Homo sapiens: one gene and its partner. Each later gene encodes a partner of the first gene's protein in a complex. Each region holds a gene or a part of one and is shown in the gene's direction. Other genes may lie near its edges. The genes, in order: MITF and EP300.

Region 1 (17,520 bases):
GAATTAGGCTATTTACAGTGAAGATGACGTTTCCTGCACCCTCCAATTAGCTAGAAACATCTCCTTTGCATGTCAAGACAAGATGTGAAATAACTCTTGATAACTGTGAATATCAGATATAAGAAGGAAGCATGTCAATAGTTCATGAGATACCTGTGCCATTCCTGGGGCTTGACTAGTTTCTGTGCCTTTTCTGAAATCTGCCACTGAAAGGAGTCGGGAAGGAAATTGGCACAGCCTCTTCTAGGATAGGATTTCTACACTGTGGCATTATTAACACTGGGACGAAAGAGTCTTTGTTTTGAAAGGCTGTCTTGTGCATCGTAGGATGTTTAGCATCACCGCTGGACTCTCGCATACTGGATGCCGGTAGTAGCACCCCCTCCTCACATAGTTATGACAACCAAAAGTATCTCCAGACATTGCCTAAAATTCCTTGAAGGGCAAAACTGCCTGTACAGTTGAGAGCTCCCATCTTAATAGGCAGGAGCACCTTACTGTAAATTTCTGTGTGGGTTACTCTCCCTGTTTCCCCCACCTAACCCTTGGGTTGTAAGCCCCTTGATGATAGAAATGAAGTATTTTCTTTCATGTTGAGGTCTCGCTTTCTTTTCTGTCTACCACACAATATATAGAGATTTGAGGATTGACTATGCCATTGCTTTTTTTTTCAGACGGAGTCTCACTCTGTCGCCAGGCTGGAGTGCGGTGGCACAATCTCAGCTCACTGCAGCCTCTGCCTCCTGGGTTCAGGTGATTCTCCTGCCTCAGCCTCCCAAGTAGCTGGGACTACAGGCATATGCCACCACACCCAGCTAATTTTTATATTTTTAGTAAAGTTAGGGTTTCACCATGTTGGCCAGGATGGTCTCGATCTCTTGACGTTGTGATCCACCTGCCTTGGCCTCCCAAAGTGCTGGGATTACAGGAGTGAGCCACCACACCCGGCCGCCATTGCTTTTTAGTTTTTGTTTTTATCCAAGCCACATAATATAGTGGGTTTTTAACAAAAGGGCAGTCTTGACATTTCTCTTCTTCCCGTTTTTGTTACTGCTTCACAACTGAGTACGTAACAACTGGTACTTCAGTGATACAGTGGCCTATTTTCTTTCTTATAAAAGACATTACTATATCATACAGTATTTTAACCTTTCCTTTACAAATCTCATGATACTGAGATGCCTTTGGTTAACAAAAATTGCCATTGAGTCTGGAAGATTGTTTGTTTGCTGACTGACCAGCCCCCTCATCTCATCCTTCTCACAAAGAAAGAAAGAAAGAAACAAACCCTCAACCCTTAAATTAGTCAAAGTCCTAAGGCAGTTTTCCCAGAACAAATGTCCATATTGACTTTCTCCGTTGTTAGGTCCTGTCCTTGTTGACCCGTTGCTGGCTTGAGGGGCTGATTCTGTTCACTTTGGAATTGGGTAGCGTTTTGGTTTAACAACAGTGTCCACCCAGCGGGGGACCAAATTCTCAGGAGAAGCCTTATTTATAATAAAGCACAAAAACAAATACTCAGAAGAAATAGTGATTACATAGGCCCTCTGAACAGTTTCAAAAGCAGAAATAATTCCGTTGAAAATATGAATCCTGTAAATAACTCATAGTTTGGTAGTGTTTCATAAAGTGATTAGGAGTAAGCCTCAATTTCCTCATGCTGAAAATGGGGATAATAACATCTGCTACTTCGTAGGATTGTAATGAGGATTAAATAAGTGAATCCATTGAAAACTTTCAGAAAAACTACCTGTAACATAGCACTCAGTAATTGCTTTATTTTCTTTCTTTTGGAGATGGAGTCTTGCTCTGTCACCTAGGCTGGAATGCATTGATGCGATCTTGGCTCATTGCAACCTCTGCCTCCCGGGTTCAATCAATTCTCCTGCCTCAGCCTCCTGAGTAGCTGGGACTGCAGGCACACACCACCACACCAGGCTAATTTTTGTATTTTTAGTAGAGATGGGGTTTCACCATGTTGGCCTGAAGTGATCGGCCTGCCTTGGCCTCCCAGAGTGCTGGGATTACAGGCATGAGTCACCACACCTAGCCTATTTTCACTTTTTAATTCTTCTCCTAATTATGAGGAGTCTCTATATCTTCCCATTTTCCTACCTCCTTTAAAATTCCTACCTATATTCTCCAAAGAAGTAGTCTATCCTCTTCCTCTTTATATGCATTATCCATTATTTTTATCACACAAATCCAAATGGGACTATCCAAACCACATATATTGGCCTGGTATAGGTGTGTCCTCCCTTTACAGATTTTTATAGATTTTCAAAAAATTTTAAATCTCTGAGAATTTGCTTTGTAGAGTATGATAAGTCATAGGTTTTTGTTTGTTTTTTTTTGGCAAAGTACTTTTTATAGTGAGGAAAAATAAAGCTCTGCCTAAATACCTATGTAAGCTTAAGTTTCAGTTGATTACGTGTTTTAGATGACATCCATGTAGATCATTGGCCAATTTGTTTGAAAGAGGTAGTCATGATTTTTTTGATCTGAAAAGGTCAATATGAATTCAGTTCTGTATCCCCTGCACAAGTTTTTTAAAAAATGTTTCATTTGTGGCTAAAACACACATTCCTGATTAGATCAATGAGAGCACTCCATGGGCAAATCCAGCTTATTTTGCTAGTTAACAAGATGTTTCTCTGAGTTCTCGTGCCAGCAACGCCACAGAAGAATCACAGGAATCCTCCTGAATCCATAATCAATTCATGCAACACCAAGTCAGATCTCTTAGAAGAAAATTGCTGGTGAAGGTCCAGAATAGCAAGCTAAAAAGCAGATATTTGATACTTGCAATAGGCTGATAGGTGTGCTAAGTGCTTGCTTAGTAAACATGCTACCATAACACTTTTCCTTTTATGGAGAAAGAGGACATAAATACATAAAAATAAAATATCAAATACATAAATATGTGTGCACTGTGTGAATATGTACAGGTTGTCTCAAATTTATACGAAAGCAGAGTGAATAATAGAATGAACCCTTCGCGTAACCCATCACCCAGCTTCGAGAGTTATTGACTCGGCTCATCCTGTTTCACGGATACCTCCCTCTAACTTGCAAATCCTAGACATAATTTCATCTTTAAATCTGTCTCGTAGTTTGTTCAACCTCTCCCCAGAAAAATGTACAGTCAAAGTTTGCTTACAATTTTCAGGAATTTACAATTTCCCTAAAACCCAGTTAAAGAGAACCACTGACTGATCCAGCTCATTTGGAAGTATGAGAGGAAAGATGTCACGAAAGCCTTCTGTATGAGACTGTGGCCTGCAAGTGTCCCAGCTCTAACGTTCATGTTTTTCCCCTTTTTCTCTTACTCTCACAATCCATCTATGATATTTGAGTTAGCTAAAGAGAAAAAGATAAAAGGATACAGGAAAGAGGCTGAATATTTCCTTCATCTTTTAAAGTCCTCTCGTCTCCTTCTTGGTGGCTTTATATTTTTTTTGAGATTGTGAGCTATATGATTTAACACTAATCCACTTGGATGTGAAAGCAAAAATTCCAAGGTGAACAATCATAGAGAACATTATTTATTTACTGAGCATTTACTATGTGCCAAGTACTTTTCATGCATCTCATCACTTAAGCTTATCAGCATCTCCAGCAACTATTAGGTAGGTAGGATCCATGAGCCCATTTTGTAAACAGAAAACTGAGGTCCAAAGCATTTAAGCAACTTGCCCAGGATTTGAACTCAGATCTATTTGAAATTCCATTCAGATGTTTAACAATACTAAACTGCATCTCTCCATTTTACTCTGACAGTGGGTCGTATTCTTAGCTGTGTGTCCCAAGCAGGCATACGTGGAGTATTTTATAGCTGTGTGCACCATTTATAACAACTTCTTCATGGTGGCGTGAGGCATTTCAGAGCATTATATAAGAAAGTCTCTTAATGTTTATGCTGTTTTTAAATTAGACTTAGTGCAAGCCAAGAAGAAGCCAAGGGCATTTTCAAAGTGTTCATCAGATCATGTTGATTCTCTTTATTAAAACATCTCAATGGCTTCTTACAAGTAGTAGAGAATAAAAATCAAATTCCTTTCAATGGCCTGCAAAGCCCTACAACATCTGGCCCAGACATTCTTTTCAGGGCTCTCACTGACCTTGTCAGTACTCCAAAAGTGCTGGCTCTGTGGTTGTTGATCTTGTCCTTATTCATCCAATATGCTGGGCTGCTTCCTACCTCAGTATCTGATCTCTTCTGTACCTCACCATAGCTGGCTTCTCATCATTGAGGTTCCACCCAACTTGTTGCTTCTAGAATAGCTTTGTTGCAATGGCCTTTTTTTCTCTTTTACTGTCTGCATTGCACTTCTCATTGTATGAGATTCTTATTCCTTTGTTGGTTCATTACTCTGTGTTTGTCTCTGCTTCCCCACCTTAAATATGATTTTCATGCAATCAGGGCCTGTGCTTTAGTTGCTGCTCAGTCTTCAGCACCTAGATGAGTGCTGAGTAAATCCTGGTTGAATGAATGAATGGTTTGTTAAGTGGGGATGGTTACATTAAACCTGCATGCGAAGCTCTCAGCACAGTGCATGCCCCAGTCGGAAAGCACTGCCGAGCTGCTGCTGTTGTTGGTGAGGTTAATTCCAATCTGGAACTTCATCATAACATAATCTATAAGGCAAGTTTTAAGAATTTCCCAAGCCAATGCAGTTTCTCAAAAACCAGAAGGACCCTCAGTCTCATGATATAGATCCTGAAGTTGTGTTATTAGGAGATGGCTGCTTTTTGACAGTTTTTAGCTCATGTGGGCTTGACCTTCAAACCAGTAGCATTCAGCAGCTCTCATCTCTGCCTAGGGGCTTTCTGACCTTTTGCTTAGGCCCAAGGCAATGTTTTCATCTCTGACAAACTTGACCACTGCCAGTTTCTTAAGAGTGTCGGTACTTATGAGAAGGAGTTGTTCTGCCTGTGCTGTAATCATCTCTAATACCCGATAAACTGCAAACAATGGGGGCATTTGAGGGGGGAAATGGTACAACAAAAAGACGTCTGCGATTCTGAGGCAGGGCTAAACTGGGGCACGTGGAAAAGTTCTAGCATGTGGAATGCTGCACTCGCAGCTCCCATGGTGGGGGGGATCTGGACGGTCCTGACAATGGGCCATTATAAAGGCACTATTGAACCACGTAATTGTGGCCTTTGGAAAAACCATAAAAATGTGTCAAATATTATACAAATGCAAACTGTACAAGCTTGAATGTTAGACCAAAAATTTCAGAAAAAACAAAGTCCTCTCCATCTGATCAAACAGTTCAAGAAAAAGTTGAAACAAGGCGAATTTCACCATTGTGTAACCCCTTCATGGGTTTATTTGTTGCTTGCAAAATTTTCAGTAGAGGAATTCTGCCTGAATATATTTTCATTTGTCCAGATCTGTAGGCTTTCATTCTCATGGAATGTCTAGCTTGTTTAAATTACAAAATCAGTGTCATGTACATTATAGAAAATAATAAAATAACAATCACTGAGAATTTATCGCTCGGGAATAGTCATTGTTGAGACTTGACCGAGTAATTTGTCATTAGTTTTTTTTTTTGGCTTTGCATATATATAAATAGCATTTAAAAATCAATTTTGGATAGCAGCATGTATAGTGTTTTTAACCTGCTTTATGTTCCCATTTACATTAATGAACTTTCCGTCTCATTAAATATTGTTAGATTAACACAGTAACGGAAAACCAAACACCACATGTTCTCATTCATACGTGGGAGTTGAACAATGAGAACACATGGACACAGGGAGGGGAACATCACACACCGGAGCCTGTTGAGGGGTGGGGGACAAGGGCAGGGAGAGCATTAGGACAAATACCTAATGCATGTGGGGCTTAAAACCTAGATGACGGGTTGACAGGTGCAGCAAACCGCCATGGCAAATGTATACCTATGTAACAAACCTGCACGTTCTGCACATGTATCCCAGAACTTAAAGTAAAAAAAAAAATAAATTTGATATATGAAATTCAATGTAGTGTACTAGACAAGAAATAAACAAAAAATTGTTAGATAAAATGTGGATTGTAATGACTGCATAGGATCCATTTATATGTAGTGGTTCTCAACTGAGGGCTGTTTTGTCCCCAGGAGGCATTTAGCAATGTTTGGAGCCAGTTTTGGTTGTCATAACTGGAGTGGGACATGCTGTGTTACTTGGCATCTAATGGGTATAGATTAGGGATGCTGGGAGACAGCAGGCAGTTCACACATCACCCCCACAACAAAGCAGTATCTGGCTCCAGTGTCAATAGTGCTGAGGCTGAAAGCCTGAACTATATGGCTTCCTTATAATTAATTGAATCCATGGCCTATGAGATATTTGTTTTCAATTTTTTTATTAGAAATTAATGGCTGAAAAACTTTATCTATAAAAAACAGAGTGTTTTAGACTTTTGGGGCCGTCGGGTCCATTACTCAACTATGCTCTTGTACTGTTATAGCTTGAAAGCAGCCATAGACTATACTTAAATGAAAGTATGGATGTTTTCCAATAAAACCTTATTGACAAAAATGGGCGGCATGCCCCAGGCAGTAGTCCACCTACTTCTGTTAGAGATAATGCTCTAATAGATGTCTGTGTACCTAAATCTTTGTCCCGTATCTGATCATCTCCTTAGAAAAGTTCTTGAAAAGAGCCATTGCTGCATGGGCAACATGTATGTATCTTTTTAAAGTTTATATCCGTTTATTTTATTTTATCTTTTACAGTTCTACCTATTTATTTTATTTTCTCCTATGAGATTGTTCATTTCATGTAGCTTTCTGAACACACTTGCGCCACCATCATTCTATCAGATTTGGAACCTTGTTCAGGGATATGAAGTGTGAATGGGTAAGGTAGGATTTGCAGATTTAAAAGTCTTCAGGAATCAGACGGGTTAATGAATAAAGTAGTCCAGTTGTCAGTGTCAGAATAAAGAGTGATGAGAGTTGCAGAATGAAAAGTAAGTGCTCATTGAAAGGGAGAAGCTACTTCTCAACTCTGTTGCTTTTCAACTCTGATAAGTTGCTGGCCCAGTAGGAGTGCAGTTTGGTATCTCTAGATCTTCTGATTTATCAACCAGAAAAGAGAAATCCAAACTCTGGTTTGAGAAACCAGATTTTGGGTTGAAAACTCCCAATTTTTCATCATTGGTGACAAATTCATAGAACACTAAATTCTGTCTAGGTGAACAGACTTGCCTGTGGTTTGTGTCCATGGACTGCCAGCTTGGGGACCTTGGAATAACTGTGACTTATCTAGGGGTCTACAGCTAGAGGTGAAAGCAAATCTCAGGCTTCCGGCCGGTCATTTGAGACCCACAGGGCCCTACTGGCTTGTTGTACTGCTAGATGAGAGCTGTAAGAATTGGCAATCTTTGGGCAGCCCCTGATAGATAAGGAAGCTTTATCATGTGAAGTAGGGTGGCAGGCTGTGAATCAACTGCCTGGCCTGAAGACTTAGTTCCTCTAGAGCTTTCTAACTTAGGAAGACTGAGGGACTGTCACACTTCATTTCCTCAGGACGTTTCCAGAGGTGGTCAGAATCCTAGCCTACAACCCCTGCCTACACAATGTGGCCCCTTGTTCTTCGGTTCTGCCCCTTATCCATGCACGCCAGCCACAGTGGTTCCACACTGCTTCACTGACGTACCAAATACTTGCTGAGTGCCCACAGTGTGCCAAGCTGTGTTCTGGACAAAGCAGAGCAGAGGAGGGAGAATCAGGAGCACTGGTAGCATGTGGGCTGGATATGTGAATATGTCCTTAAGATAGTTATAGGAGACAAGGTCAATGAGGTAATGCTCCTGGGGTGGGGTGGAGTGGGAGAAGTAGGCACAGTGGACAGGGGTCTGTAGAATCTACGTGGAGAACTAACAAGCTAGTGTGGATTTCTGAACACCATACCCAGAGATTCTGATTCATTAGCTCTGGTTTGGGGCCCTGGAATGTGCATTTCTAATAAGCACTGTGAATAGCATTGATGTAGGGACTTCTAGGCCATTGCAAATACTTTGTTTTTGTTTTTTTTTCTCAGAAATAAGTAGGGAACCATTACAGAGGTGGGGTTTTTCTTTTTGTTTGTTTTGGTTTAGTTTCTATAGAGAAATGACTTGATCTGACAATATCACAAGATCCCCCTATTCATTGTATTGAAAATACACCGTCAGAGTGCCAAGACAGAAGCAGGTAGAAGAGTCAGGAAGCTTTCCATCATCTAAGTTTGAAGAGATGGTGGCTTGGATCAGATGGTAACAGTGGAGCATGAAAATCCATCATATTCTGATTATTTTCTGAAGATGGAAACAATATTTCTTGATGGGTTGGATCCAGGGTATGAAAGAAAGGAGTCAAAGATAACCATGATTTGTAGAATGAGCAACTAGGTTAAGCCAGAGGAAGACCATTTTTTGACCTACCCCCGCCCCCAACAAAAATGGCAATTTTCTATGTTTCAACCTAATAGAAAAAAATGGAGTTGCCAACTGTGAAAATGCAGAAGACCGTGGGAGGAGCCAATTTGGAAGAGTGGATGAACATGCTGAGCTTGAGAGTCTGCAGTCCTCCAAACGGTGCCGTCTCGTAGGCCAGTGGAGATGAGTCTGGTTCTCAGAGACCTCTGTTCTGGGGTGCTTAAATCCATGTGACTGGGTTCGATCACCAGGGCTGGGAGTGTAGATAGATGAAATCAAGCTCGGATCCTTGAGGCACTCTGACATTTAGAGGGGAGAAGAGGAGAAAACTAGCTAAGGAGAGTGAGAAGAAATGAAGAACGTGAGAGAAAAACCAGGCAAGTGTGGTAAATCGAAAGCCAAGTAAATAACATGTATTAAGAGCCTCCTTGCTGTTCTTTGAGCAACCAAGGCTTGTTCACACCTGAGGGCTGTATGCTTGGCTGGAATGCCGTTCCTGCCAATCTGCCTGGCTCATCTCACCAACTTCAGGTCTGGGCGTCAATGTCATACTCTGTGAGGCCCTTACCTAAACACACTGTGTAAGATTTGCACAGTTGCCTGGCATCTAGTTGGTGCTCAAGCAATATTTGTTGATTGAATGGTGAACATATAACTTTTGATGAAGGCAGCAGTCCAGGTGAGAACATATGAAAGCCTTGCTGCTCGGGATGTAGTGTGTTCCCTGGACCGGCTGGGTCAGCATCCCCTGGCAACTTGTTAGAAATGCAGAAATCTTGGGCTCTAGCCCAGACTTGTGGCATCACACTCTGCATTTAACAAGATCCTCCAGTGATTTGTGTACACATTAACATTTGCTCCCAGTCCTGTATTTAATTTTCTATGAATGTCAAGAGGACAATTGAGTATACTCTCTCAGATGGGAACAACTCAAAGTAAGAAGTTAAAACAATCAAAATCAAATATCTTCAGTGGTTGTTTCTGTATTCAATCAGAAAGCTATGATACAGTTTAAAAGCAAAAGAAAACTGTGTCGAGACTTTCAAGAATATTTTATGTGATTATCCCCCTATCTTTTTTACTTTTATTTTATGTGGTTATTCCACATATCTTTCTTACTTTTACTTTGAATTGACATAAGCTAGGAGCGCATGTAAAATGCATGGCATCTGGTACATGGTAGACAAGTTTGAGAGAATGAGCACTAATTCCGTTCTTTATATTTTAAAACATCGTGCTATATAATGTAACATATCCACTCATAATGTCTTATAAGACCCTCATTTAAGAGAAATGGTTTTCTCTTCTATTCGGCTGAGATAAAACCACATGTTCTTTTTATTATCATGGTCTTTGGCTTATTTTAGCCTGAGGGAGAAAAAAATAATGTATATATTAGGGATTTTCTTATGATAACACCTTTTTTCTGAGGCTACTAAATATTGTTTGTCCTAAAACCAAAGTATGCCTGTCTTGTGGTTTATAATAAGCATACTGTTTTATAGGTCATTAGCTAAGGATAAAAGACTTGCTGGGAATTTTTGATAGGGCTAGTCTAGTCTATTCTGTTTTAACATCAAATTTTCAGAAAAGTACATTTGTTATCCTTTTCTTTTATACATATTTACAGCTCAATTCTCTGAATTCAGAAGCCTACAATGTAATAAGACAGGAAGTAGTATGAAAGTATACAGACCCATAAATATGTGATATAAATGTATATATATTTATTTGTGCACACCTGGGATATGCACCTGGAATATGCACCTGGAATACACCCCTGGATTTACACAGTTTTATCTTCCCTTCTTATTCAGTTAAAGTCCTAGATCAGAACTGACCCACAGAAGAGGGAGCTTCTCTAGTTCGCCTCTGCGGACAGAATAATGGAGACATGGCTATGGTTTCTAACCCTGGCAAGTTGTTTAGGTTTCCTCTTAGTTTCTGTTTTCTTTAGCTTTAAAAAGGGTGGGGGGTAATTAAGCATATCCTGTATTCTTACAAAGATGCTTGTCCAGTTAAGACAGTAGTTGGAAAAACAACTGTAAAATTACGTATACATATACTATTTCTCTTTATTAAAATCACCCCATTCTTTCCTTCAAATCCTGCTAAAACTTCTGTTGAGTAGGAAAGTTCAATTCTAGTTTGGTGAAACTTTCCTAGAGAGCAGGGGTCAGCATTTTCTATAAAAAGCCACAATGTAGATAATTTTAGGCCTTGGGGGCCCTGCAGACTCTGTTGCTACTCTTCAAATCTGCTATTGCAGCAAGGGAGCCGCCCTGGACAACATGTCAACTAATGGGTGTGGCTGTGTTCTGATAAAACTTTATTTATCCACATTGAAATCTGAATTTTATATAATTTTCATGTGTCATGAAATATTCTTCTTTTCATTTTTTTTCAACTATTTAAAAATGTAAAATCCATTCTTACTTTATAGACCATACAGGCAGCAGACCGAGTTGGGCTGATGGGTGGACAGACTCCTGTTGTAGAGAAAAAGCACTGGGTTTGTCAACCATAGCCATTTCGAACCTTTCTTTATTTAAGACTCTTTGGTTTGCTTTGTATTTGCATCTGATTTTGATTCTTCTCCCTTAGGCCAGGATTCATACCCTTGTTGTTTTTACTTTTTGTTAAGGACAGCTTTGTACAGATTGTACAGTAAACAAGATTATATGTCCAAGGATATATGTTCTGGGCTTTTGTTTTCTTTTGTGGTAATGTAATTGTGGGACTGAAAAGAACCTCGACACTTAATCAGATGTGACCTTTTGCAAGACTATCCTAGTTATTTAAGAAAGCTAGCTTTCTCTGTTTTACCGCTTTTTTCAGGAAATATGATTGCATAACTGACATTCTCTATGGATTGCCATTTTTAAAACAGTATGAAAAGAATAGTGGTGTGGTGATAGATAACAATTGATTAAAGGGTAATCCCTTTAGTTTTCTTTAAACTTGCTGAGCAAAAGAACAAATTATCTCTCTAAACATAAGTGATAAATCTGAACATTTTGTTGAATTATTAAAAATATATATATATAAAGCCATTTGAGTGTAGAAGCATGTCATAGCTACTCAGGAGGCTGAAGTGGGAAGATCACTTGAGCCCAGGAGTTCAAGGCTGTAGTGTGCCATGATTGCACTTGTGAATAGCCACTGCACTCCAGCCTGGGCAACATAGCAAGACCCTTATCTCTAAAAATATAATAAATAAATAAATAAACTAAAAGGATTAAGAAAATCTACACTCGCTTCTACTTGAATTCTGGTTTACAAATAGTAGAGAGAATAGAAGAATAGTGGATATCTAGATAGGGATATTTCTTCCCCAGTAAATTCTGTTGTCAGCCAAGATGGTAGTATCTATAGCTACCATCTTAAACTGACATGTGATGTGCTCCAGGATCTCTTTAGAATGAAACTGATGGAAAATAACCTGTCAGTTTTACCCAGGAAGTGGTAAAGCTGAAGTGTGACAGTTAGGAGGTGATCCATTCCGATTCTCTTGCTATCCATTCAAGATCTGAATGAAGAAAGGAAACAGGTGAAATTACAGGAGTGCTAACAATGAATAAAAGTTACAAAGCCTTTGGGTGTTTGCCCTTTAACTCAGATAGCTAGCATAATTTATATGAAATATAAGTTATATCAATAAATAATATTTTATGATAAAGTATTCTAGCTTTATTTTGCTGTCTATACTTCAGGTGTTCAGCAGTACTCAACTTTTGCTATCTGAATTTCTTAGTGTGGTTAGTCATCTGGAAAGTCAAAAACATGCAAACATTATCAGGAAATCATAAAGATGTTTCTGTCCTCTTTAATGCTACATATATGTTCTCATTTGCATACTTCTTTGGCTATTTAAAAATTAATGAAAGCAAAGTTATTGACTAAAAAGCTATGAATTAGGGTGGCTGAAGACAGAAAATTATATTTATATGGCTTTTTAAGTTGTCAAAGGGCTATAGAGCCTCATAATAATGCTATGAGGGAGTTTGGACAGGGTTAGTATCTTTCTCCAGCATCTTCTCAGGGAGGGAAGTAAACATAGAGAGGCTATGTCACACACCACCTGTCCACAGTGGGGAGTGACATTGCTGGTGCAGTGATGATGCTAGAATGCCAACCACATTCTAGATCAGGGGTTCTCAAAGTGTGATCAGAGGGCCCTGGTTGTATCTAAGACCCTTGCAGGAGTTCTGCCAGATCTGGACTATTTCAGAATAACACTAAGATATTGTTTTCCTTTTTCACTCTCATTTCACCAGTAAACAATAGAGTTTTCCGAAGGCTACATGTCGTGTTGAGATGTCATTGTTCTGACATCCTGTGAGATATCTACTAATGTATAATCGTGTGTTTTCAAAAATTCTCAATTTTAATTTCTAATATGCTAAATATTGATAGATATAATCCATGTAAACACAATAAATTTAAAGAGTGTAAAAGGATCCTAAGACAAAAATGTTTGAGAATTGCTGTTTTAGATATTGTGCTAAGGCCGTTAGAAACATGATCTCATTTAATGCAGAAAACACACATATGAGGCAAGCTCTACTGTCATTCCCATTCAATATGCTAGGAGATGAGGGCCTGGAGAAGTTAATGAATTGCAGAAGGTACACGGGTTGTTAAGTTGCAAAGATAGAATCTGAACCCAGGTTTCAAGTTAAGAACTCCACTGTCTGTGTTGTCAGGCACATTGTCTTTCAAAGAAGCACCAGGAAATGCCTGGATTTGGACTAATTTCTCAGAAGAGAAACTTCTTCCCATAACCTAGGCTATCTCCAAGGGAATGTAAATATGAAGATTATCCTTATAGACAGTGTAAAATAGAGATTATTTTCTAGTAGTTTGTGGGCCGAGGCTTGTACTCTGTGAAACACAAAACAGTTGAGCATCGGATCTTTAAACCTGGAGGATTTTACTTAAAAAAGAAGTTTGGATTGCCAGCTACCCTTGAAAAATTTGGAGATTTTGAGCTAGGCTGGACTCATATTCCCACATGGCCACAATCAGCTGCAGTTTTTATCTGCTGTTCCTGCTAGATAGATGTGTGTCCTCTGGTTTGCCACAGACCTCACTACTCCTTATTACCTTCCTCGTAGCTCATGTTCCTCATTTATGTTGCCTGTTTGAGGTATTTGGGTTAGAAACAGCTGGAGATGTTCTGTCTACTGCATAGTGTTTATAGGCCATCTGCTTTCAACTTACGTGAAAAATAAAAAGTTATTAACAGTAAAAGAGCCAAATATATCCCATTCTGCTTACCCAAACCTGGATGTAATAAAGACCTCACTGACAGTGCCACATAGAAAGCAAATTGCTTCTTTCTTTACTAAAGCATAATATTCTGATTCATTAAAGAATTAGGATCTGCCAGTGAATTAACATTTATTTTTAAACATGAATCTCTTTTCTTTTTAAGTGTAATAGTGAAATAAGCACATTCTACTCATTGCCCTCATTTTATGTTTATTTTAGTAATGTCTACTGTCATCATTATCATGTCTGGACCCTTTATAAAAAAAAAATCTCTGTGAACCTCTGTGTACATATTAAATCAGTCATTTGAAACAATATGAGATTGTCAACCTAACGGACTGCATTATCCTGGGCATTTAGACAACATTATTGAACTTCAAATTTTTAGCTTAACATAACATTTGTCAGCAGTAGATATTAAGCATTTATCATAATTTATAAGTATATATTTGCTTGCCTCTTTTCTTTTTTTGCCTCACCCCAGAATATAAGTTTCATAAAGCTGGAAACTATATCTGTTTGTTCACAATGTATATTCTATGCTTTGTACAGTGTTTAGCACTTAACAGTCAATAATGAATGAATAAAGGAATAAATATGTAAATATATCAGTGTTGTATATGATAACTCATTCTTCTGTAATCTTAAGAATAATATGTAAAAATTCTCAGCAAAAATGCTCATGCTTTTTTCATTTGAGAATTAAATAGGGGAGATATTTATTTCTTATTATCCACATAAATATATATCCACTTCTGTGTGTGCTATGTTCTATTTAGGATAGTGCCCGGTCTTCCTGATGTGAGGTCAATAGGCAGGTTACACATCTATGTAGCTAAGAATAAGGTGCATATTAAGACCAGGATGCAAGAAGAGGCTGTTGAACTTGAACATTCAGCACAGAGTCTCTTCTCTTCTATACTAAAAGATAGTCATCCTGCAGTCGGAAGTGGCAGTTATTCGGCCATTGGAAAAGTCTCATGTAATAGTAGCTTTTAGATGATGTCTCCTCCAAAGGGGCATTCTGCTATTAACCTATTGCTGAAAGAGAAATACCATTGTCTATTAATACTACTGGAACTAAAGATGAATAGTGAATTGGCCTTGATCTGACAGTGAGTTTGACTTTGATAGCTCGTCACTTAAAAAGGTTCTTTTATATTTATGAAAAAAAGCATGACGTCAAGCCAGGGGGAAAAATTGATATCAACATTTAAGACCAAACTCGTAGGGCTTCCAAAAAAAAGGCCCTTATGTGAACGTTTTTTTTTACATGCATAACTAATTAGCTTAGGTTATTATAAGCAGGGCTTCTGTGATAAAGTTTCCGGTGGTGTCTCGGGATACCTTGTTTATAGTACCTTCTCTTTGCCAGTCCATCTTCAAATTGGAATTATAGAAAGTAGAGGGAGGGATAGTCTACCGTCTCTCACTGGATTGGTGCCACCTAAAACATTGTTATGCTGGAAATGCTAGAATATAATCACTATCAGGTGAGATTTATTCTGACTCATATTCAGTCTTTGAAATATAATGCAATAAATTGATTTAATCCACTTTTTGTTATTGTAATAGACATACTGTTTTCAATAAGTATAAATCTGCTCTTTTAATGCTGTTTATTATTTGATGCCATAAGAAGTAATTCAATGTAGTTTTGAACAAAGTAAATATTAGTAGGATTCTTTTTTTTTTTTTTTTTTGGCCTAGTGTGTGGCTAAACTATCTTCATCAGCTCCTGTTCATTGCTCATAAGATTAAATTGTCTTTATCAAGAAAAAAGTGACTTAAAATTGAATAATGTTGTTTTTTGGGGAAAAGTATTTCTCGTTCTGAATTAATGTCTGTAGGAAAGGAGAAAAAACATCCTGTTGGCTTGTTAATAGTCATGTCTTTTAAAACACATACGTGTAAGTGTTATGCATTTGAAAGAAACTACTTAATGTAGAATTGCTTTTTATGTTGAGTTTTTTCTTAATTACAATGTTGAATAATCATGTCCAAATGAAAAGTGGGAGAATTAATCCACAACTAGTTGATTTAATCATTGGAAGATTTATATTTATTTTCTACAGCCATTTTACACAGTTGGTTCTTAAGGAGGTGTGTGTGTGTGTGTGTGTGTGTGTGTGTGTGTGTGTGTTTTAAAAAGAAAGCTGTTCTGTTCGCCAAGGAAAGTGAAACAAACAATTATGCCACTTCTACATTGTTGTTTGATCTTAATAAACCCTTTCATGTGTGTTGGGGAAATTTTTGCCCTAAGATAATTTCAAACTTTTAATTATTAGATATGAGAAGAAGGATACAAGGTTTGAAAGAGACGTATAGTTAATTAGCAGGGAAATAAAATAGGGCAAAGTATTACACCAAATCCTACTAGTTAGACTTTAAACTTCAGTAATATCAAAATCCGTTAGCACAGTGCCTGGTACATAACAAAGGCTTAATAATTTATTCTGTTGGTGGCCTGGTCAGTTTCATGTTTGTGCCTGAAGGAAGAGCCGTCTGAAACTCACAAATAACAGCGCTGTTTTCTTTTCCCTCCATGGCTATGTTCAGGTGCAGACCCACCTCGAAAACCCCACCAAGTACCACATACAGCAAGCCCAACGGCAGCAGGTAAAGCAGTACCTTTCTACCACTTTAGCAAATAAACATGCCAACCAAGTCCTGAGCTTGCCATGTCCAAACCAGCCTGGCGATCATGTCATGCCACCGGTGCCGGGGAGCAGCGCACCCAACAGCCCCATGGCTATGCTTACGCTTAACTCCAACTGTGAAAAAGAGGTAATTCATGTCTCCTCTCCTCTCCTGTTTTCTTATGCTAAATAACTTGTCTGTTGAATATGATTCCCACACTTAACTGTGGACTCTAGTTTGTCCTTGTGGCCACATTTACCAGCCTTTGTCCCCGATTCACCATCGTGGCTGTGGCATTCCAGCCTGTTGTCTCCATCGCTGGGTTATTGGGTGTAGAGCACATGACGGGAGACCTGGCCCTCTCCAAGTGAAATGTGGAGGCGAGGACACTTTTGCCACTTGCTTCTTCTTCCTTAGCTGAGTGCTCTCTTCTCTTCCATGCCTTTCAGTTTATGAAGCAGTGAGAATGCAGAGAGAGGAGAAGGGGAGGTGGAAAAGGAAAAGCAAAAATAGAAGAGGTGTGGGACATGCTGTTTAGAAGTTCCGCTTGTTGTGAATGTCTGGAATATTATTTTTATTTCTCCCTGAGTTGGGGGAAGAAAGAATGGAATATGCATGGATGGATTTGAATCATATAGCACATGAGACTTTAACGGAAACGCAAAGGTTTAATTGCTGGATACATTCTGTTTCATAATAAAATTGCCACTGCCCGTTAAATCTGCTTTGGTGAAGGCTGGATTGGAAACAAGACTCAAACTACCTTCAAGCTAATTGGTGCATCAAAATTTGCAGCATACAAATACCTGAGAGCTGTGATTTAATGCTCATTATTTCCAAATTATGAGATGATGAGCTTCATCTCAATGGGATTTACCGTACTATGGACTATGAAGTGTTTATGCAAATTCGGAGGCAACTTTTCTAGAGTTGGATTGATTTTAATTTCTAGAGGGACTAAAATCTTTGCCCCTATGCCCAAACCAACTGCTTTATTTTTCTCTACCCAAATTTGTCATCTAGCAAGATGATTTGACACAAGTTCTTCCTTCATTATTTCATCTTTTGGTCAGATTCCACTTTGTTTGAAAGCTTAGTTCATCTTGTTGCTGTGCCATCAGCTTTGTGTGAACAGGTCATTAAAAAGTCATTTGCAAATCCAAGTTATAGACTGTTTTTGCTTGTGT
Region 2 (8,618 bases), on another chromosome or scaffold:
TCTTTCACTCATTTCTGTATAAATGTGAGCTCCTCTGAAGCAGACATCTTTGAAATCCCCACACACTGCCAGATAATGATAGTTATCAATGAAATAGTTGCTGGTTCTTTGATGTACAATCAGCCAACCAGTATTTACAAGTCTTAATTCTCCTGTTCTTAAGCATAATTAAGGGAGGTGAAATGGGCAGAGCAAATGAAAGCACCATGAATAAATATAAGCCAAGAAATAGGTGGCTAATTCTGCTATCCTGTTGCTTACCTTACATTCTGATTGTATCGTTGGCAGACTCTGCGTGTGTCTCACCTACTTCCCTTTTTTTTCTGCCCAGCTTTCCCAGCCAGCTGTAAGCATTGAAGGACAGGTATCAAATCCTCCATCTACTAGTAGCACAGAAGTGAATTCTCAGGCCATTGCTGAGAAGCAGCCTTCCCAGGAAGTGAAGATGGAGGCCAAAATGGAAGTGGATCAACCAGAACCAGCAGATACTCAGCCGGAGGATATTTCAGAGGTGAGAGTAGGGCAATTACTGTTTGATTTGGTTAGGACCTCAGTATAGGAACCCAAGTTTTAAAAAATATTGCAGAAAAATATTTTGATAATTAGATCTCATGGCATAGATTTTGCATGAGAAAGGGTGTTCAGATTACTGATTCCCAACTAGATATCTTTGGAATACTAAAAATTCTTACGTTTTCTTTTAGTCTAAAGTGGAAGACTGTAAAATGGAATCTACCGAAACAGAAGAGAGAAGCACTGAGTTAAAAACTGAAATAAAAGAGGAGGAAGACCAGCCAAGTACTTCAGCTACCCAGTCATCTCCGGCTCCAGGACAGTCAAAGAAAAAGAGTGAGTCTCTGAAGCCATTCGTTCTGGAGGTAGCTGAAGAAACCAAAGACCCAGGGCAGAATTGCGGTCATGCCTCTTGGGCCTCAGAAGTTGCCATTATTGTGATTTCATTAACCTGGAAGCCCTGGGCCTGGTCTCTTCATTGTTACTAATAATTTTTCTTTCTTTTTTTTTTTTTTAATATTCACTTGCAGCAACCAATGAGTTAAGTCATTCCCCTCATTTCTTCAGGGTTCCCTGTGTTAGTACACCCTAAAAATTGTCTCATTTTTCAGGAGAGAGAAATGTTTGTAAATAGCCTTGACTAAAATGCAGGAAAGAATAGCAATAGTAATAGCATTTGTCATTCACCTGCTGTGTGCTAAGTATCCACATTGTCTCATTTAATAATTTCTTTCTTTCTTTTTCTTTTCTTTTTTGTTTGGAATCGGATTCTCACTTTTGTTGTTCAGGCTGGAGTGCAGTGGCGGGATCTGAGCTCACTGCAACCTCCACCTCCCAGGTTCAAGCGATTCTCCTGCCTCAGCCTCCCGAGTATCTGGGACTGCATGCGCATGCCACCATGCCCGTCTAATTTTTGTATTTTTAGTAGAGACAGGATTTCACCGTGTTGGCCAGGATGGTCTCGATCTCTTGACCTGGTGATCCACCCGCTTCGAGCTCCCAAAGTGCTGGGATTACAGGCATGAGCTACCACACCCGGCCTCATTTAATAATTTCACAACAGCTCTGAGGTTATTGGCCTGAAGCTTAGCAAAGTTAAGTAACTTTCCACAGGTTACTCAGCTGACCCTACTGCCTGGGCCAGGAAGCAGACCCAGGCAGTCTGAGGCAGAGTGCTCAAATCCAGCCATTCCAACAAGTGTTAATTGACTATTTTAGGACTAGAACTTTTGTGGCTCTAGTGATCTGCAAAAGGCACCAGGTAGGACATACCTGAGGAGTGAGTCTGCTGGCTCTTACAGATGATATATATTGAAAAGTGTTCCATTAATACAATGTGTTGTAAAATGTTGGGATTAAAAAATTATTTTCATTTTAAAAATAAGACTTGTATATATTGAGGTGTTTTAATATGGGCTGTAACAAACCCAGTCTTACTATTGGCAATCTCTCTTTAAAATGTGTGTTCCCTCATGCCTGTAATCCCACCGCTTTGGGAGGCCGAGCGGGCAGATCACTTGAGGTCAGGAGTTCAAGACCAGCCTGGCCAATATGGTGAAACTCTGTCTCTACTAAAAGTACAAAAGTTAGCCGGGTGTGGTGGCTCTCACCCGTAGTCCCATCTACTTGGGAGGCTGAGGCAGAAGAATCACTTGAACCCGGGAGATGGAAGGAGGTTGCAGTGAGCCAAGATGGCGCCACTGCACTCCAGCCTGAGTGACAGAGAGTAATTGTCTCAAACAAATAAATAAAATAAAATGTCTAATTTCACAAGTTTATTCAAATAGTCCTTATTTTTAGCACAGCTAAATATGAGTGACAAGCATCTTCGTAGTCTGGTTTCCCCCCACTCCATGGCAACCCCCCAGAGGTGAAAATTATCTGAAGTAACAAATATACTCTACCGATGATGAAATTTTTTTTGCCAATTAAGAAAAAATAAGGCCCTTGCTGAAATTGAAAGCTTTTTAAATCACTGGCTTCTCAAAGAACTGTTTGATTCCATTTGGGACACACCAACAAATTTTTCCGGACTTTTTGGGAAATATCATTGAGAACACATTTGAACTTAATTTGATCAACTAAGTCTATTATTTTAGCAATACCATTTTTGTTCTCTCTTCTTTTAAACTTAAACCTAACATTTGTCATTAAAATAGTACATGTCTCTTTTTCTTTGGCTCTAAAATACCAAGCATTTGAACGAAGGAGTCTTCTCTTCTGTGCCCCTGACTCCTTGTAGTATAAGACAATACCTGATCTAGTCTAGTTTCTGACTTGTTAAATACTGATGTCATGAAGAAAGACTTTTCTGTTCTTGCTTGACTGCATCTCCCTCTTAACACGAGTATCTTGTGCACTCTTTTTTTTTTTTTTTTTTTTTTTGAGATGGGGCCTCATTCTGTTGCCTAGGCTGGAGTGCAGTGGCGCCATCTCGGCTCACTGCAACATCTGCCTCCCGAGTTCAAGCAGTTCTCTTGCCTCAAGCCTCCTGAGTAGCTGAGACTAGCATGCCACCATGTCCGACTAATTTTTTATATTTTTAGTAGAGACGAGGTTTCACCATGTTGGCCAGGCTGAAACTTCTGACCTCAAAGTGATCTGCCCACCTCAGCCTCCACCGTGCCTGGTCCCATGGACTCTTATTTGGCAAAGTCTCTTCATAAATTTTTAGAAGCCTTTGGATTCTGCTTCTAATTGACCGAGTCTGTCTTCACTGACTTTGTGACTGAAAAGTTAAGCTGAGGGTGAAGAGTGTTTTAAGGTGATAAGACACAATGTTTTTTAGGAGCTGTCTGAAACAAAGCGGGGCTTAGAATCTAGAATCAGTGATTGAGCCTGTAGTGATATTTCCATGGGGACAGAGTGGTTAATTTTGTTATTGATTCTTGAGATGCTTTTAGAGCTTCAGGCTGAATGATTTTTTAAAGTTCTTCTGCTTAATTGGTAACTAATTTCAAATGCACTTTTTTTTTTTAAGTTTTCAAACCAGAAGAACTACGACAGGCACTGATGCCAACTTTGGAGGCACTTTACCGTCAGGATCCAGAATCCCTTCCCTTTCGTCAACCTGTGGACCCTCAGCTTTTAGGAATCCCTGTAAGTATTTGGTGGTACTTTTGATTTTATTTTTTAATTTGATAACAGCTTTATTGAGAGATAATTCACATTCCAAACAGTATAGCCACTCATTTCAAATTTGTAATTCAGTGATTTTTTTTTTTTCCCCCTGAGACAGGGTCTTATTCTGGTTGCCTAGGCTGGAGTGCAGTGGCACGATCGTGGCTCACTACTGTCTCCACCTCCCGGGCTCAGGTGATTCTCCCACCTCAGCATCCTGAGTAGCTGGGATAACTACATTCATGTGCCACCTCACCTGGCTAGTTTTTTGTATTTTTTAGTAGAGACGGGGTTTCGCCATGTTGCCCAGGCTGGTCTTGAACGCCTGGACTCAAGCAATAGGCCCATCTCAGCCTCCCAGAGTGCTGGAATTACAGGTGTGAGCCACTGGGCCTGGCCTAATTCAGGGAGTTTTAGTATATTCACAGAGTTGTGCATGACACTTTCATTTTCATCATCTGAAAAAAATCCTTTACCATTAACAGTCACTCACTATTTTCTCCCATAGCACCCCAATCCTAGACATCACCAGACTGCATTCTGTCTCTGGATTTGTCTGTTCTACATGTTTCATTAAATTGGAACATACAGTATGTGATTCTTTGTGCCAGGACGTTCCTTAGCATAATGTTTTCAAGGTTCATCCATGTTGTAGCATGAATCAGTAGCACATACCTATTTATAGCCCAATAATATTCCATTATTTTTCTTTACCTGTTGATGAGTTGATAGACATTTAGGTTGTTTACACGTTTTGACTATTAAGATAGGACTGTAGTGAACATTGTGTGGATTTAAGTTTTTATTTCTCCTTGGTATTTACCTAGGAGTGGAATTCCTGGGTTATATAGTTTGTTTACTTTTTTGTTGTTGTTATTTGTTTTTTGTTTTTTTGAGATGGAGTTTCACTCTTGTTGCCCAGGCTAGAGTGCAATGGCGCAATCTCAGTTCACCTCAACCTCCCCCTCCCGGGTTCAAGCAGTTCTCCTACCTCTCAGCCTCCCGAGTAGCTGGGATTACAGGCATGTGCCACCATGCCCGGCTAATTTTGTATTTTTAGTAGAGATGGGGTTTCTGTATGTTGGTCAGGCTGGTCTCAAACTCCCAACCTCAGATGATCCACCCACCTCGGCCTCCCAGAATGCCCAGATTACAGGCGTGAGCCACCGCACCCGGCCACTTTCGTTGTTTCAAGAGCAATAGGTCATAGCAGAAAAAAGGACCGTGGTTAGCTTTGTTTTTAAAGTTGCCTCCATATACTAGGCTGCTGGCAGATTTCATTTGGTGGTTTTAAACTGTTACTTGGCCGGGCACGGTGGCTAACGCCTGTAATCCCAACACTTTTGGAGGCCAAGGCAGGCAGATCACTTGAGTTCAGGAGTTGGAGACCAGCCTCACCAACATGGTGAAACCCCATCTCTACTAAAAATATAAAAAGTAACTGGGCGTGGTGGTGCACGCCTGTAATCCTGGCTACTTGGGAGGCTGAGGCAGGTGAATAGTTTGAACGACCCTGGGAGGCAGAGGTTGCACTGAGCCAAGATTGCACCACTGCACTCCAGCCTGGGCAACATGTTGACAGAGACTCCATCTCAAAGGTCAAGTGCTTCCAGGGGCAAAAGCCTTTTAGGACTTTTCCTCTCTTGTATCTTGCTGTGATTTCAGATGGAACATTTTAAGTTCTGTGGGCTTAGTTTCCTCATTGTACACCCCTTCTAGTACTAAAATTTTAAATGTCTTTGACTTTACTGATCTCACATGTACTTTCATAAAGAACCTGAAGTTGCTTCAGTAGAATATCAGCCTGATGTCTAGAAAGTCCATAGTAGTTCTGTTTCTCTGCCCTTTGAGTAGTTTAATATCTCTGTAAACTAATATTTAAAGAAGTGATGGACATCAGTCACCTCTTGGGGAATATAGACAGGCCAGAAACTAAAACACTGCCTGGAAAATTAACAATGATAATGGATGATACTCCATCTCCCGTAAAAATAGTGAGACTTGAGTAATGTTTGATGTCACTTGTCTTTCTAGGATTACTTTGATATTGTGAAGAGCCCCATGGATCTTTCTACCATTAAGAGGAAGTTAGACACTGGACAGTATCAGGAGCCCTGGCAGTATGTCGATGATATTTGGCTTATGTTCAATAATGCCTGGTTATATAACCGGAAAACATCACGGGTATACAAATACTGCTCCAAGCTCTCTGAGGTCTTTGAACAAGAAATTGACCCAGTGATGCAAAGCCTTGGATACTGTTGTGGCAGAAAGGTAAGAAATGTGTTTCAGATTTGACTTTAACTTTTCTGGGATACCTAGAATAATATAGTGGTGACTGGGATAAGAGAATATCCTGCTTCTGGCTTTGACATGGCTTTTTTTTTTTTTTTTTTTTTTCCTTTTTGACAGGGTCTTATTCTCCCAGGCTGGAGTGCAGTGGTGAGGTCATAGCTCACTGCAGCTTCAACCTCCTGGGCTCAAGCAATTCTCCCACCTCAGCCTCCTGAGCAGCTGGGACTACAGCCGTACGCCACCATGCCTGGCTGATTTTTTAAATTTGTTTTGTAGAAACAGGGTCTCATGATGTTGCTCAGGCTAGTCTTGAACTCCTGGGCTCAAGCAGTCCTCCTGCCTCGGCCTCCCAAAGTGCTGGAATTACAGTCATGAGCCACCTCTCCCAGCCAACACAGTCTTTCTCTTACTGTGTGCCACAGTAGTAATATCTCTTAATATGAAATGGGCTTTCTTTAAAGGCATTTTTTCAGAGTGGCAATTGTATGGAAAAGTTGACTAATTAAATAATCAACAGACTGTTAACTCATCTGGAGTAGGGGCATTCTTATATTCACCTGTGGGTGCAGATTCCTCAGCATGTGCTGGCTTTCCTGTACATACCAATTCACATTATTGGTTTTTTGTTTTTAAAATAAGACTATGGTCTTGCTGTGTTGCCTAAGCTGGTCTGGAACTCTTGGGCTCACGCAGTCTTCCCACCTCAGCTTCTGAGCACTGCAGGCATGTGCCACCCTGCCCAGCTATTCCTGTTAGGTTCTTTGGTAAAGTGATGGAAGGATATGACTGCTAAGCCTACCTCAGCGTTTTGAAATAATGTGGTAGTAAACTGAGAATGATTTTCAGGAACTGAATTAGCCCATCATTATTAACATAAATGAGAACTAAGACACCACTGACTTCTGTTTCTGACTTGCCATTCTTACTGTTCTAGCTTGTCCTTAAGGCCTCTGTGCTTTTTAACAAATGGTTTCTTTTGCAGTTGGAGTTCTCTCCACAGACACTGTGTTGCTACGGCAAACAGTTGTGCACAATACCTCGTGATGCCACTTATTACAGTTACCAGAACAGGTAAGCTTGGCCAGGTGTGGACCATGGTCCATGTGTCCACATGTCCAGGGAGTGCATGCGGATGGGCCAGCACACATACAGTCATGGTTCATGTGTATCTTGCTTGAAGACAGCTGTATAGCACAAGTTCTGTTTTTTGCCTTCTGCCTTTGTTTGCAGAACAATAAAATTTTCTATCAGAGTAGCCTTGCATCAGTTACCTGGGTTCCTCCCAAGAGCTTGAGAAGTTAAGCAACTTTGTGAGTTGTTGGCCTAGATGGGTCTATATCCCAGGCCCCACTTCTCTTTCTACTGTGTGTTTGTTGATCACCACAGCCTGAGGCAAAACTGAGAAGATTTTTAAACTTTTAACTGAAACTCGCTAGACAGCTTTTTGGAAATATTTCCTTTTTAGATGAGGCCTATCCCTAAGTAGTTGTTATTAGAATATATGAAAACAGGATTCTGGAGTCTTTTCTTTGCCTCATATTAAGCAAATTAAAAGGAAAACCTCACATAGCTCTCTGTACCTTACTTTTCCCAACCCAGCCTTGTATGTGACAGAGGATGATTTGAGTCTAATAAACGAGGCACCTCTGCCTAATTTTCTCCTGCCCAATCAATGGCTGTAATCACATAAATCTCATTCACTAATCTATCTTAACCACAATTTGTCTCCTGTTTTCAGTGATCAGCTACAAGTATAGCTTGCATTGGGTGTTTATTTGGGGCTCTGATACAATAATAACAAGGCTGGATGATATTAATACCCTTTATTTGTTTGTTAATACCAAATCCATGGTGTTGGTTTTTGCTGAACTTGTGTGTTGCAGATGCATTTCTAGCTTTGAAAAGTCACTTAAACTTTTTCTTTTATTTACAAAAAGTTAGGCGTGCTTCTAATGCTTTGTAGACCTAATGCTTTGATTTTGCAGTGAGTAAAAATCTAGCTCTTTACTCATTTGAAACCTAGAAAAGGTGGGACTCAAGTTGTTATAAGTACCTTATGTTTAAAAAAGCAAGTAACTGGACATGAAACTTTTCTCATGTTTACTAAAACAGTAGTCTAAAGTGTTTATCTTTGCACCAAGCCATCTTTAATCAGGTACCTGCACACATCATTTCCTTTTGAAATGTATCACTTGATGGCTGTAGTCAGTATTTAACTGCTTGTGCAGGCTTTTCAATAAACAGTTTTTTTTCTTTCTTTGTTGAGACAGGGTCTCACTCTGTCACTCAGGCTGGAGTGCAGTGGCGCAATCTTAGCTCACTGCAACCTCTGCCTCCCGGGTTCAAGCGATTCTCCTGCCTCAGCCTTCCAAATAGTTGGGATTACAGGTGTGTGCCACCATGCCTTGCTTATTTTTGTATTTTTAGTAGAGACAGGGTTTCAGCATGTTGGCCAGGCTGGTCTCGATCTCCTGACCTCAGATGATCCACCCTCTCAGCCTTCCAAAGTGCTAGGATTATAGGTATGAGCCACCACGCCTGGCAATGGTTGTTTTAGATTATTGTTTTCTGCAGTTGTATCTATAGTGGGCTTTTGGGGTGGGGGGTGGGGGTCTGTGGTTTTTTGTTTTGTAAGTGGGAAGAGGTGTGATTCCTGTATTTAGGTAATGAGTAGCAGTTCTTCTCTCCCT

The links.
Region 2: the proteins of MITF (region 1) and EP300 are in contact, whole or in part, in an NMR structure (PDB 8E1D), measured with the Homo sapiens proteins. Residues at the interface, in NP_001341533.1 of Homo sapiens: Val226, Ile230, Leu233, Glu234, Ser235, Tyr237, Asn238, Glu239, Glu240, Ile241, Asp246; in NP_001420.2 of Homo sapiens: Ala1723, Ser1726, Pro1727, Gly1728, Arg1731, Ser1734, Ile1735, Pro1780, Lys1783, Gln1784, Ala1787, Leu1788, Lys1794.

Annotation. Positions count from the first base shown.
Region 1 is NC_000003.12:69,921,570-69,939,089, forward strand, and holds part of MITF (microphthalmia-associated transcription factor), read left to right. Parts: intron 1-15,022; exon of another isoform or gene 15,023-15,153; coding exon of another isoform or gene 15,154-15,186; intron 15,187-16,252; coding exon 16,253-16,480; intron 16,481-16,782; coding exon of another isoform or gene 16,783-16,797; exon of another isoform or gene 16,798-17,496; intron 17,497-17,520. UniProt on the Homo sapiens protein: Transcription factor that acts as a master regulator of melanocyte survival and differentiation as well as melanosome biogenesis.
Region 2 is NC_000022.11:41,151,502-41,160,119, forward strand, and holds part of EP300 (histone acetyltransferase p300), read left to right. Parts: intron 1-331; coding exon 332-511; intron 512-704; coding exon 705-849; intron 850-3,493; coding exon 3,494-3,612; intron 3,613-5,667; coding exon 5,668-5,907; intron 5,908-6,910; coding exon 6,911-6,999; intron 7,000-8,618. UniProt on the Homo sapiens protein: Functions as a histone acetyltransferase and regulates transcription via chromatin remodeling. Acetylates all four core histones in nucleosomes. Histone acetylation gives an epigenetic tag for transcriptional activation.